Regions from separate parts of the Homo sapiens genome. Here region 1 is linked to region 2. A link means that fine-mapping ties the variant in region 2 to the expression of a gene that starts in the linked region. Tissue or cell type: whole blood. Region 2 holds a variant in brackets; the other region holds the start of a gene. All regions are shown on one strand. Distances are from middle to middle. Region 1 holds the start of FAM30A (family with sequence similarity 30 member A). Region 2 has its middle 11 kb from the start of MIR4539.

What was found. PIP is the estimated chance that this variant, and not a neighbour inherited with it, causes the effect.
Region 1: FAM30A starts here. The variant in region 2 is fine-mapped to the expression of FAM30A in whole blood (TOPMed, PIP above 0.99).

What each region holds. Positions count from the first base shown.
Region 1 is chr14:105,915,296-105,920,499 of GRCh38, reverse strand. FAM30A (family with sequence similarity 30 member A) reads right to left here and starts at 2,521. Exons shown (of 6, transcript NR_026800.2): 1 at 1,683-2,521. It also overlaps IGH, IGHD2-2 and IGHD1-1.
Region 2 is chr14:105,844,095-105,849,298 of GRCh38, reverse strand. It overlaps IGH and IGHD. Among named protein-coding and RNA genes, the nearest start is that of MIR4539, 11 kb to the left of the region's middle. The variant C/A (reference allele first, on the strand shown) is at 2,796.

The DNA of each region.
Region 1 (5,204 bases), 71 kb before region 2:
ACACCCCTCCCGTGCACGCCCCCTCCTGCCCTGCACCCCACAGCCCAGCCCCCCGTGCTGGATGCCCCCCCACAGCAGAGGTGCTGTTCTGTGATCCCCTGGGAAAGACGCCCTCAACCTCCACCCTGTCCCACGGCCCAAGGAAGACAAGACACAGGCCCTCTCCTCACAGTCTCCCCACCTGGCTCCTGCTGGGACCCTCAAGGTGTGAACAGGGAGGATGGTTGTCTGGGTGGCCCCTAGGAGCCCAGATCTTCACTCCACAGACCCCAACCCAAGCACCCCCTTCTGCAGGGCCCAGCTCATCCCCCTCCTCCTCCCTCTGCTCTCCTCTCGTCGCCTCTACGGGAAATCCGGGACTCAGCAGTAACCCTCAGGAAGCAGGGCCCAGGCGCCGTTTAATAGGAGGCTTCCTCACAATGAAACTTTTAGAAAGCCTTGACTACAATGATGACCTTGGTGTGGCTGTGAACACTGTCAGCTCCCACAGCTGCTGCAGCAAAAAATGTCCATAGACAGGGTGGGGGCCCGGGGTCGTCTGCTGTCCTGCTCAGCCCACAGCACGCATGGAGGATCTGAGGTGCCACACCTGACGCCCAGGCCAGAACATGCCTCCCTCCAGGGTGACCTGCCATGTCCTGCATTGCTGGAGGGACAGGGGCAGCCTATGAGGATCTGGGGCCAGGAGATGAATCCTATTAACCCAGAGGAAAACTAACAGGACCCAAGCACCCTCCCCGTTGAAGCTGACCTGCCCAGAGGGGCCTGGGCCCACCCCACACACCGGGGCGGAATGTGTACAGGCCCCGGTCTCTGTGGGTGTTCCGCTAACTGGGGCTCCCAGTGCTCACCCCACAACTAAAGCGAGCCCCAGCCTCCAGAGCCCCCGAAGGAGATGCCGCCCACAAGCCCAGCCCCCATCCAGGAGGCCCCAGAGCTCAGGGCGCCGGGGCAGATTCTGAACAGCCCCGAGTCACGGTGGGTACAACTGGAACGACCACCGTGAGAAAAACTGTGTCCAAAACTCTCTCCTGGCCCCTGCTGGAGGCCGCGCCAGAGAGGGGAGCAGCCGCCCCGAACCTAGGTCCTGCTCAGCTCACACGACCCCCAGCAGCCAGAGCACAGTGGAGTCCCCACTGAACCCCACTGAATGGTGAGGACGGGGACCAGGGCTCCAGGGGGTCATGGAAGGGGCTGGACCCCATCCTACTGCTATGGTCCCAGTGCTCCTGGCCAGAACTGACCCTACCACCGACAAGAGTCCCTCAGGGAAACGGGGGTCACTGGCACCTCCCAGCATCAACCCCAGGCAGCACAGGCATAAACCCCACATCCAGAGCCGACTCCAGGAGCAGAGACACCCCAGTACCCTGGGGGACACCGACCCTGATGACTCCCCACTGGAATCCACCCCAGAGTCCACCAGGACCAAAGACCCCGCCCCGGTCTCTGTCCCTCACTCAGGACCTGCTGCGGGGCGGGCCATGAGACCAGACTCGGGCTTAGGGAACACCACTGTGGCCCCAACCTCGACCAGGCCACAGGCCCTTCCTTCCTGCCCTGCGGCAGCACAGACTTTGGGGTCTGTGCAGAGAGGAATCACAGAGGCCCCAGGCTGAGGTGGTGGGGGTGGAAGACCCCCAGGAGGTGGCCCACTTCCCTTCCTCCCAGCTGGAACCCACCATGACCTTCTTAAGATAGGGGTGTCATCCGAGGCAGGTCCTCCATGGAGCTCCCTTCAGGCTCCTCCCTGGTCCTCACTAGGCCTCAGTCCCGGCTGTGGGAATGCAGCCACCACAGGCACACCAGGCAGCCCAGACCCAGCCAGCCTGCAGTGCCCAAGCCCACATTCTGGAGCAGAGCAGGCTGTGTCTGGGAGAGTCTGGGCTCCCCACCGCCCCCCGCACACCCCACCCACCCCTGTCCAGGCCCTATGCAGGAGGGTCAGAGCCCCCCATGGGGTATGGACTTAGGGTCTCACTCACGCGGCTCCCCTCCTGGGTGAAGGGGTCTCATGCCCAGATCCCCACAGCAGAGCTGGTCAAAGGTGGAGGCAGTGGCCCCAGGGCCACCCTGACCTGGACCCTCAGGCTCCTCTAGCCCTGGCTGCCCTGCTGTCCCTGGGAGGCCTGGACTCCACCAGACCACAGGTCCAGGGCACCGCCCATAGGTGCTGCCCACACTCAGTTCACAGGAAGAAGATAAGCTCCAGACCCCCAAGACTGGGACCTGCCTTCCTGCCACCGCTTGTAGCTCCAGACCTCCGTGCCTCCCCCGACCACTTACACACGGGCCAGGGAGCTGTTCCACAAAGATCAACCCCAAACCGGGACCGCCTGGCACTCGGGCCGCTGCCACTTCCCTCTCCATTTGCTCCCAGCACCTCTGTGCTCCCTCCCTCCTCCCTCCTTCAGGGGAACAGCCTGTGCAGCCCCTCCCTGCACCCCACACCCTGGGGAGGCCCAACCCTGCCTCCAGCCCTTTCTCCCCCGCTGCTCTTCCTGCCCATCCAGACAACCCTGGGGTCCCATCCCTGCAGCCTACACCCTGGTCTCCACCCAGACCCCTGTCTCTCCCTCCAGACACCCCTCCCAGGCCAACCCTGCACATGCAGGCCCTCCCCTTTTCTGCTGCCAGAGCCTCAGTTTCTACCCTCTGTGCCTACCCCCTGCCTCCTCCTGCCCACAACTCGAGCTCTTCCTCTCCTGGGGCCCCTGAGCCATGGCACTGACCGTGCACTCCCACCCCCACACTGCCCATGCCCTCACCTTCCTCCTGGACACTCTGACCCTGCTCCCCTCTTGGACCCAGCCCTGGTATTTCCAGGACAAAGGCTCACCCAAGTCTTCCCCATGCAGGCCCTTGCCCTCACTGCCCGGTTACACGGCAGCCTCCTGTGCACAGAAGCAGGGAGCTCAGCCCTTCCACAGGCAGAAGGCACTGAAAGAAATCGGCCTCCAGCACCCTGATGCACGTCCGCCTGTGTCTCTCACTGCCCGCACCTGCAGGGAGGCTCGGCACTCCCTGTAAAGACGAGGGATCCAGGCAGCAACATCATGGGAGAATGCAGGGCTCCCAGACAGCCCAGCCCTCTCGCAGGCCTCTCCTGGGAAGAGACCTGCAGCCACCACTGAACAGCCACGGAGCCCGCTGGATAGTAACTGAGTCAGTGACCGACCTGGAGGGCAGGGGAGCAGTGAACCGGAGCCCAGACCATAGGGACAGAGACCAGCCGCTGACATCCCGAGCCCCTCACTGGCGGCCCCAGAACACCGCGTGGAAACAGAACAGACCCACATTCCCACCTGGAACAGGGCAGACACTGCTGAGCCCCCAGCACCAGCCCTGAGAAACACCAGGCAACGGCATCAGAGGGGGCTCCTGAGAAAGAAAGGAGGGGAGGTCTCCTTCACCAGCAAGTACTTCCCTTGACCAAAAACAGGGTCCACGCAACTCCCCCAGGACAAAGGAGGAGCCCCCTGTACAGCACTGGGCTCAGAGTCCTCTCCAACACACCCTGAGTTTCAGACAAAAACCCCCTGGAAATCATAGTATCAGCAGGAGAACTAGCCAGAGACAGCAAGAGGGGACTCAGTGACTCCCGCGGGGACAGGAGGATTTTGTGGGGGCTCGTGTCACTGTGAGGATATTGTAGTAGTACCAGCTGCTATGCCCACAGTGACACAGCCCCATTCCCAAAGCCCTGCTGTAAACGCTTCCACTTCTGGAGCTGAGGGGCTGGGGGGAGCGTCTGGGAAGTAGGGCCTAGGGGTGGCCATCAATGCCCAAAACGCACCAGACTCCCCCCCAGACATCACCCCACTGGCCAGTGAGCAGAGTAAACAGAAAATGAGAAGCAGCTGGGAAGCTTGCACAGGCCCCAAGGAAAGAGCTTTGGCGGGTGTGCAAGAGGGGATGCGGGCAGAGCCTGAGCAGGGCCTTTTGCTGTTTCTGCTTTCCTGTGCAGATAGTTCCATAAACTGGTGTTCAAGATCGATGGCTGGGAGTGAGCCCAGGAGGACAGTGTGGGAAGGGCACAGGGAAGGAGAAGCAGCCGCTATCCTACACTGTCATCTTTCAAGAGTTTGCCCTGTGCCCACAATGCTGCATCATGGGATGCTTAACAGCTGATGTAGACACAGCTAAAGAGAGAATCAGTGAAATGGATTTGCAGCACAGATCTGAATAAATTCTCCAGAATGTGGAGCCACACAGAAGCAAGCACAAGGAAAGTGCCTGATGCAAGGGCAAAGTACAGTGTGTACCTTCAGGCTGGGCACAGACACTCTGAAAAGCCTTGGCAGGAACTCCCTGCAACAAAGCAGAGCCCTGCAGGCAATGCCAGCTCCAGAGCCCTCCCTGAGAGCCTCATGGGCAAAGATGTGCAGAACATATGTTTGTCATAGCCCCAAACTGAGAATGAAGCAAACAGCCATCTGAAGGAAAACAGGCAAATAAACGATGGCAGGTTCATGAAATGCAAACCCAGACAGCCAGAAGGACAACAGTGAGGGTTACAGGTGACTCTGTGGTTGAGTTCATGACAATGCTGAGTAATTGGAGTAACAAAGGAAAGTCCAAAAAATACTTTCAATGTGATTTCTTCTAAATAAAATTTACAGCCGGCAAAATGAACTATCTTCTTAAGGGATAAACTTTCCACTAGGAAAACTATAAGGAAAATCAAGAAAAGGATGATCACATAAACACAGTGGTCGTTACTTCTACTGGGGAAGGAAGAGGGTATGAACTGAGACACACAGGGTTGGCAAGTCTCCTAACAAGAAGAGAACAAATACATTACAGTACCTTGAAAACAGCAGTTAAAATTCTAAATTGCAAGAAGAGGAAAATGCACACAGCTGTGTTTAGAAAATTCTCAGTCCAGCACTGTTCATAATAGCAAAGACATTAACCCAGGTTGGATAAATAAACGATGACACAGGCAATTGCACAATGATACAGACATACATTCAGTATATGAGACATTGATGATGTATCCCCAAAGAAATGACTTTAAAGAGAAAAGGCCTGATATGTGGTGGCACTCACCTCCCTGGGCATCCCCGGACAGGCTGCAGGCACACTGTGTGGCAGGGCAGGCTGGTACCTGCTGGCAGCTCCTGGGGCCTGATGTGGAGCAGGCACAGAGCCGTATCCCCCCGAGGACATATACCCCCAAGGACGGCACAGTTGGTACATTC
Region 2 (5,204 bases):
TACTCCAGGGTGACCTCATCTGAACTTGATTGCAGCTGCAAAGACTGTTTCCAGACAAGGTCACATTCTGTGGTCCTGGGGGTTAGGACTTCGACACATTAATTTACAGGGGACACATTTTAACCCATGACAGTTTGCCCTCCGTTCCCCCCATAATCATGTCCTTCTCACAGGCAAAATCCCTGCATCCCATAGCAACATCTCCAGAACGGCTGACCCCTTCCAGCACCAACTCTTAGTCCACAATCTCAGCGAAATATCACCTGCATCAAGTGTGGGAGAAACCCAGGGTGAGATTCATTCTGGGTGAAATTCCTCTCCATCTGTGGACCTTTGTAACTTGACAAGAAGTTATCTGCTTCCAAAGTACAATGATGGGGCAGGCATAGGATGGACATTCCTATTCTAAAAGGGATACATAGAAAGGGAGAGAGGAGCCATGGGTCCCAAGCAAGCCCAAACCCAGCAGGGAAAGCTGCATTAGATTTAAGGCTCAAGGCTCATCCTCCTGGGTCCGTGCTCCATCTTCCAGGCCCACTGGGGTGACCCCATGCTCTTCGCCCATGGTGGCCAGAGCCCCCACAGCCTCCTCATCTTTGGCTCTGATCTCAAAGTCACCCTTCCTTCATTTTTTCTGGTCTTCTTTCCCTTCCATCCAATTGGCATTGTTTCTTCTGTTTTACAATTCACAAAATCCTTGTCAGCTTCCCATGAAATTCCTGGGGGTTTGAGTCATCAGACAAGAGAGCCCTGCACAGTTATATCCTCAATAACCTTATCTCTACTCCTGGTTTCTGCTGAGATGGTTGATTGGATCCATAAGTCATGATTCCAATCTCTTTAACAAATGGTTGCCCAGACACATCCTTGGCCTTGTTTCCAGAGCATGCTATTGGACAGGCTGAGAATTTTCCAGCTGTTCAAGTTGTGGGTCCTGTTTACTGAACACTTTCTCTCACTTTTTACTATAAGCAGTCAGGAGAAATCAGGTTGTGCCTTCAACACTTTTCTTAGAAATATCCTCAGCTAAAATCCAGGTTCATCACTTGTAAGTCCTACTTACCATAAATAGAATGCAATTCAGCCAAGTGCTTTGCCACTTTCTAACAAAGGTCACCTTTCCTCCAATTTTCAATAACATCTTCCTCATTTCTGTCTGGGGCCTCACCAGAGGCATCTTTAACATTCACATTTCTAGCAACATTCTGTTTGTGACAATTTATGTATTCTCTAAGATGACAGGAGTTTTCTCTATAGCTCTCCTCTTTCTTTCTGAGCCCCCACCAGGATCACCTTCAATGTCCAAATTTCTACCATAGTCTTCAAGGAAATCTAGGCTTTTTCTAACATGCACCTGAAAACTCTTCTCACCTCTACACATTACCCTATCCCAAATTCATTTCCACAGTTTTAGGTATCAATTAAATCAGATAAATAAATCATTACCCTGAATTATTTCAGTTAAGCATGTTAGTTGGTGGCATAAGAGAAAACTCAGTCAGATAGTGCTGAAGACAGGACTGTGGAGACACCTTAGAAGGACAGATTCTGTTCAGAATCACTGATGCGGCGTCAGCAGGACTGGCCTAGTGGAGGCTCTGGGAGGGTGGCTGCCAGGCCCGGCCTGGGCTTTGGGTCTCCCCGGACTACCCGGAGCTGGGATGCGTGGCTTCTGCCGCCGGGCCGACTGGCTGCTCAGGCCCCAGCCCTTGTTAATGGACTTGGAGGAATGATTCCATGCCAAAGCTTTTGCAAGGTTCGCAGTGACCAGGCACCCGACATGGTAAGAGACAGGCAGCCGCCGCTGCTGCATTCACTTCTCTTAAAACTTTGTATTTGATGTCTTATTTCCACTAGAAGGCGAATTGGTCTTAATTGCTTCTCTTAAGCCACCACTTCTAAAGCCAAAATCTGTTTTAGTTTCTTATGAGCTATTGTAACAAAGTACCACAACTGCATGGCTGAAACAACAGAAGTGTATTCTGTCTCATTTCTGGAGGCCAGGTGTCTGAGATCAAGCTGTGGGCAGGGTTGGCTCCCCTGGGTTGGCAGGGAGAATCTGTTCCAGGTGTCTGTCCTGGCTTTTGTTGGTTTGCTGGAAAGCTTTGGTGTTCCTTGGCTTTTGGAAACAGCTCCTCCGCCTCCATCTTTACCTTCACATGGCATTCTGCCTGCGTGCATGTCTGTGTCTAAATTTCCACTTTGCATAAGGACACCAGCCATATTGGGTCAGAGGCTCACCTGCCTCCAGCGTGACCTCATCTTAACTTGATTGCATCTGCAAAACTCTGCTTCCAAAGAAGGGCACATTCTGAGGCCCTACGGGTCAGAGCTTCAACACGTCCATTTATTTGGAGACACAACTCAACCCATAACAAGACCCATCCCTAGTGTCTCACCAGTGGTGCTGTAGAGGGAGGCCTGGCAGGGCTGACATCCCAGAACCTCAGGGAAAAATGAAAACAGCCCAGAGGGGTCCAAGAGGTGGCTCGAGGAAGGGAATTAGGAACACACTGTTCAGGTGGAAGATTCTGAGATGGGCCGTGAATACTGCCTAGGATGTGGAGGGTTGACAATGGGTTGACAATCCTGCTCAGAAAATCCCAGGATAAAGGATGTAAATGGGGAGAAGAGGAGGGTCATCCAGAATTTGGGAAAGCAGGGCGACAGTTTCTGCCCCAAGGGAGAAGGGAAGGAGGATGGGGCCACCGCCACACCAGATGACCTTGCGTACCAGGCCAAAGAACGGGAACACCTGGCCCCACCTGAGCAGCAATAGTCAGTGTGGTGGTGGG[C/A]AGACATGGGTGGAGGCAGGGGGTGAGTAGAAGGTTAGACTAAGACGGAGCACCTGGGGCCTCCAGGGACCCAGGCAAGAACCCTGCACTTGCTCAGCTGCCCTGGGTACCCAGGTCTCCAGGAAAGTGAGGCTGAGAGCCAAGCCCAGCAGGCAGCCACACATTCTGGGACCTGCCACCCTACAGCCTGCTGTCCATGAGTAACACCCCTTACAAGGGGCCAGGTCAGCTCATGGGTTTATCCCAGGCAGCAGAGCCCCTGGGGCCAGGAATCAGGGAGAGGAGCATCCAATCCCACCAGCTCCTCCGGAGCCACTCAGAGGGCCAGACGCATGGCCCTCCACAGGGACCCCATGGCCCCTGCAGGGCAGCTGAGGACCCGTGGCTGGGAGCCTGGGCAGGAGGGTCATACAGCCCTAGGCCCGTTGCTCCCAGGCTTGAGTGCCCCTCCTCCCCTCAGGGGCCCAAGGGAAGTGGGTTCCAGAGAGGTTGGGGGCAGCAGGGAAGGTGGAGGTCCCAGGAATGCCCAGAGGGGCACCAAAGCCTCTGGAGGGAAGACCCCTCCCTTCCAGGAGCTCTCGGCAACAAGAGCCCAGGGTCCACAAAGCCACAGGTCCCACTCGGTTATTCTGACTCACAACACAGGAGCGGCAGCAGGGGCATTCGTGTTCACGGGCCACTTGGTCAGCCCCGCTCACCCTGGGCACTCCTCCTGGGCCCCTTTTCCCTGCCTTCCCTGTCACCCTGCTGCCAGGGTCCTCTGCCCTGCCCTGCCCCTTGTCCTCAGAGCCTCCAGCCTCAGACTCCCACTGTGTCTGTCTTCCAGCACCCACCAAGGCTCCGGATGTGTTCCCCATCATATCAGGGTGCAGACACCCAAAGGATAACAGCCCTGTGGTCCTGGCATGCTTGATAACTGGGTACCACCCAACGTCCGTGACTGTCACCTGGTACATGGGGACACAGAGCCAGCCCCAGAGAACCTTCCCTGAGATACAAAGACGGGACAGCTACTACATGACAAGCAGCCAGCTCTCCACCCCCCTCCAGCAGTGGCGCCAAGGCGAGTACAAATGCGTGGTCCAGCACACCGCCAGCAAGAGTAAGAAGGAGATCTTCCGCTGGCCAGGTAGGTCGCACCGGAGATCACCCAGAAGGGCCCCCCAGGACCCCCAGCACCTTCCACTCAGGGCCTGACCACAAAGACAGAAGCAAGGGCTGGGCTGTGAGGCAACCCCCACCTCCCCCTCAGAGCACGTTCCTCCCCCTTCACCCTGTATCCACCCCTCCGGACCCTCCCCATCTCAGTCCCTCCGCTCCCTCTCTCTGAGGCCCATCTCCCAATACCCAGATCACTTTCCTTCCAGACCCTTCCCTCAGTGTGCACGGAGGCAGCTTGCCCAGCAAAGGTGACTGTCTAGTGGGCTTCCCACAGCCAAGCTCCCACCCCATGCTGCGGCCCCTCCCTTCTTCCTGCTTGGCTGCCTGTGCCCCCCACCTGCCTGTCCACAACCCAGCCTCTGGTACATCCATGCCCTCTGCCCTCAGCCTCACCTGCACTTTTCCTTGGATTTCAGAGTCTCCAAAGGCACAGGCCTCCTCAGTGCCCACTGCACAACCCCAAGCAGAGGGCAGCCTCGCCAAGGCAACCACAGCCCCAGCCACCACCCGTAACACAGGTGAGAAGCCCCTTCCCTGCACACTCCACCCCCACCCACCTGCTCATTCCTCAGCCGCCTCCTCCAGGCAGCCCTTCATAACTCCTTGTCTGAGTCTCCAAGTCACACTTTGGTAAGGAGAGGGACACTGAACGGACCTCTAACAAACACCTACTGCCAGCCAGCCCCAGTCTGGGGGCCAGCAGATGCCAAACAACCAGCAGACTCCCAGAGCAGACCTGGGCCGGCTCCCTGGCCCATGGACCCAGCTCTGCCTCGCTGAGCTGAGGCATGGGCTCTCAGCGCAGCCTCACATAGAGCCACCCTGCCGAGGCAGTCCGGCTTGCAGACTCACAGGTCACTTGGGCCGCAGCAGCCCCTCCCCGTGACCCTCGCCTCCCGCCCGCCCCAGCCTGGCTCTCTCCAAGTGTTGGATCTTGGTGGCCAGCCTGCTTCTCACCCTCACCCTGCCTGCCACCTCAGAATGGCAGGGGAAAGAGGGCCCTCACCAAGAACTTTATCTGAGAAGTCTGAGGCTTGTGACTCTGACCTGCCTGAGATGTCCATGTGGCCGGGGGGACGGGTTCAGTGTTCGGGAGAACTCGGGTACGTGCCTGACTTTCTCTGAGTAGGGCAGGAAGCTGTTAGGAGAAGCAGCAGTGAGGTGGGCTGGACCAACAGGCAGAATGACTGTCCCTCAGCCACCCTCTGGGATGTGGGTCAAGCTCTGACAAAGGCATGGCACAGCCAT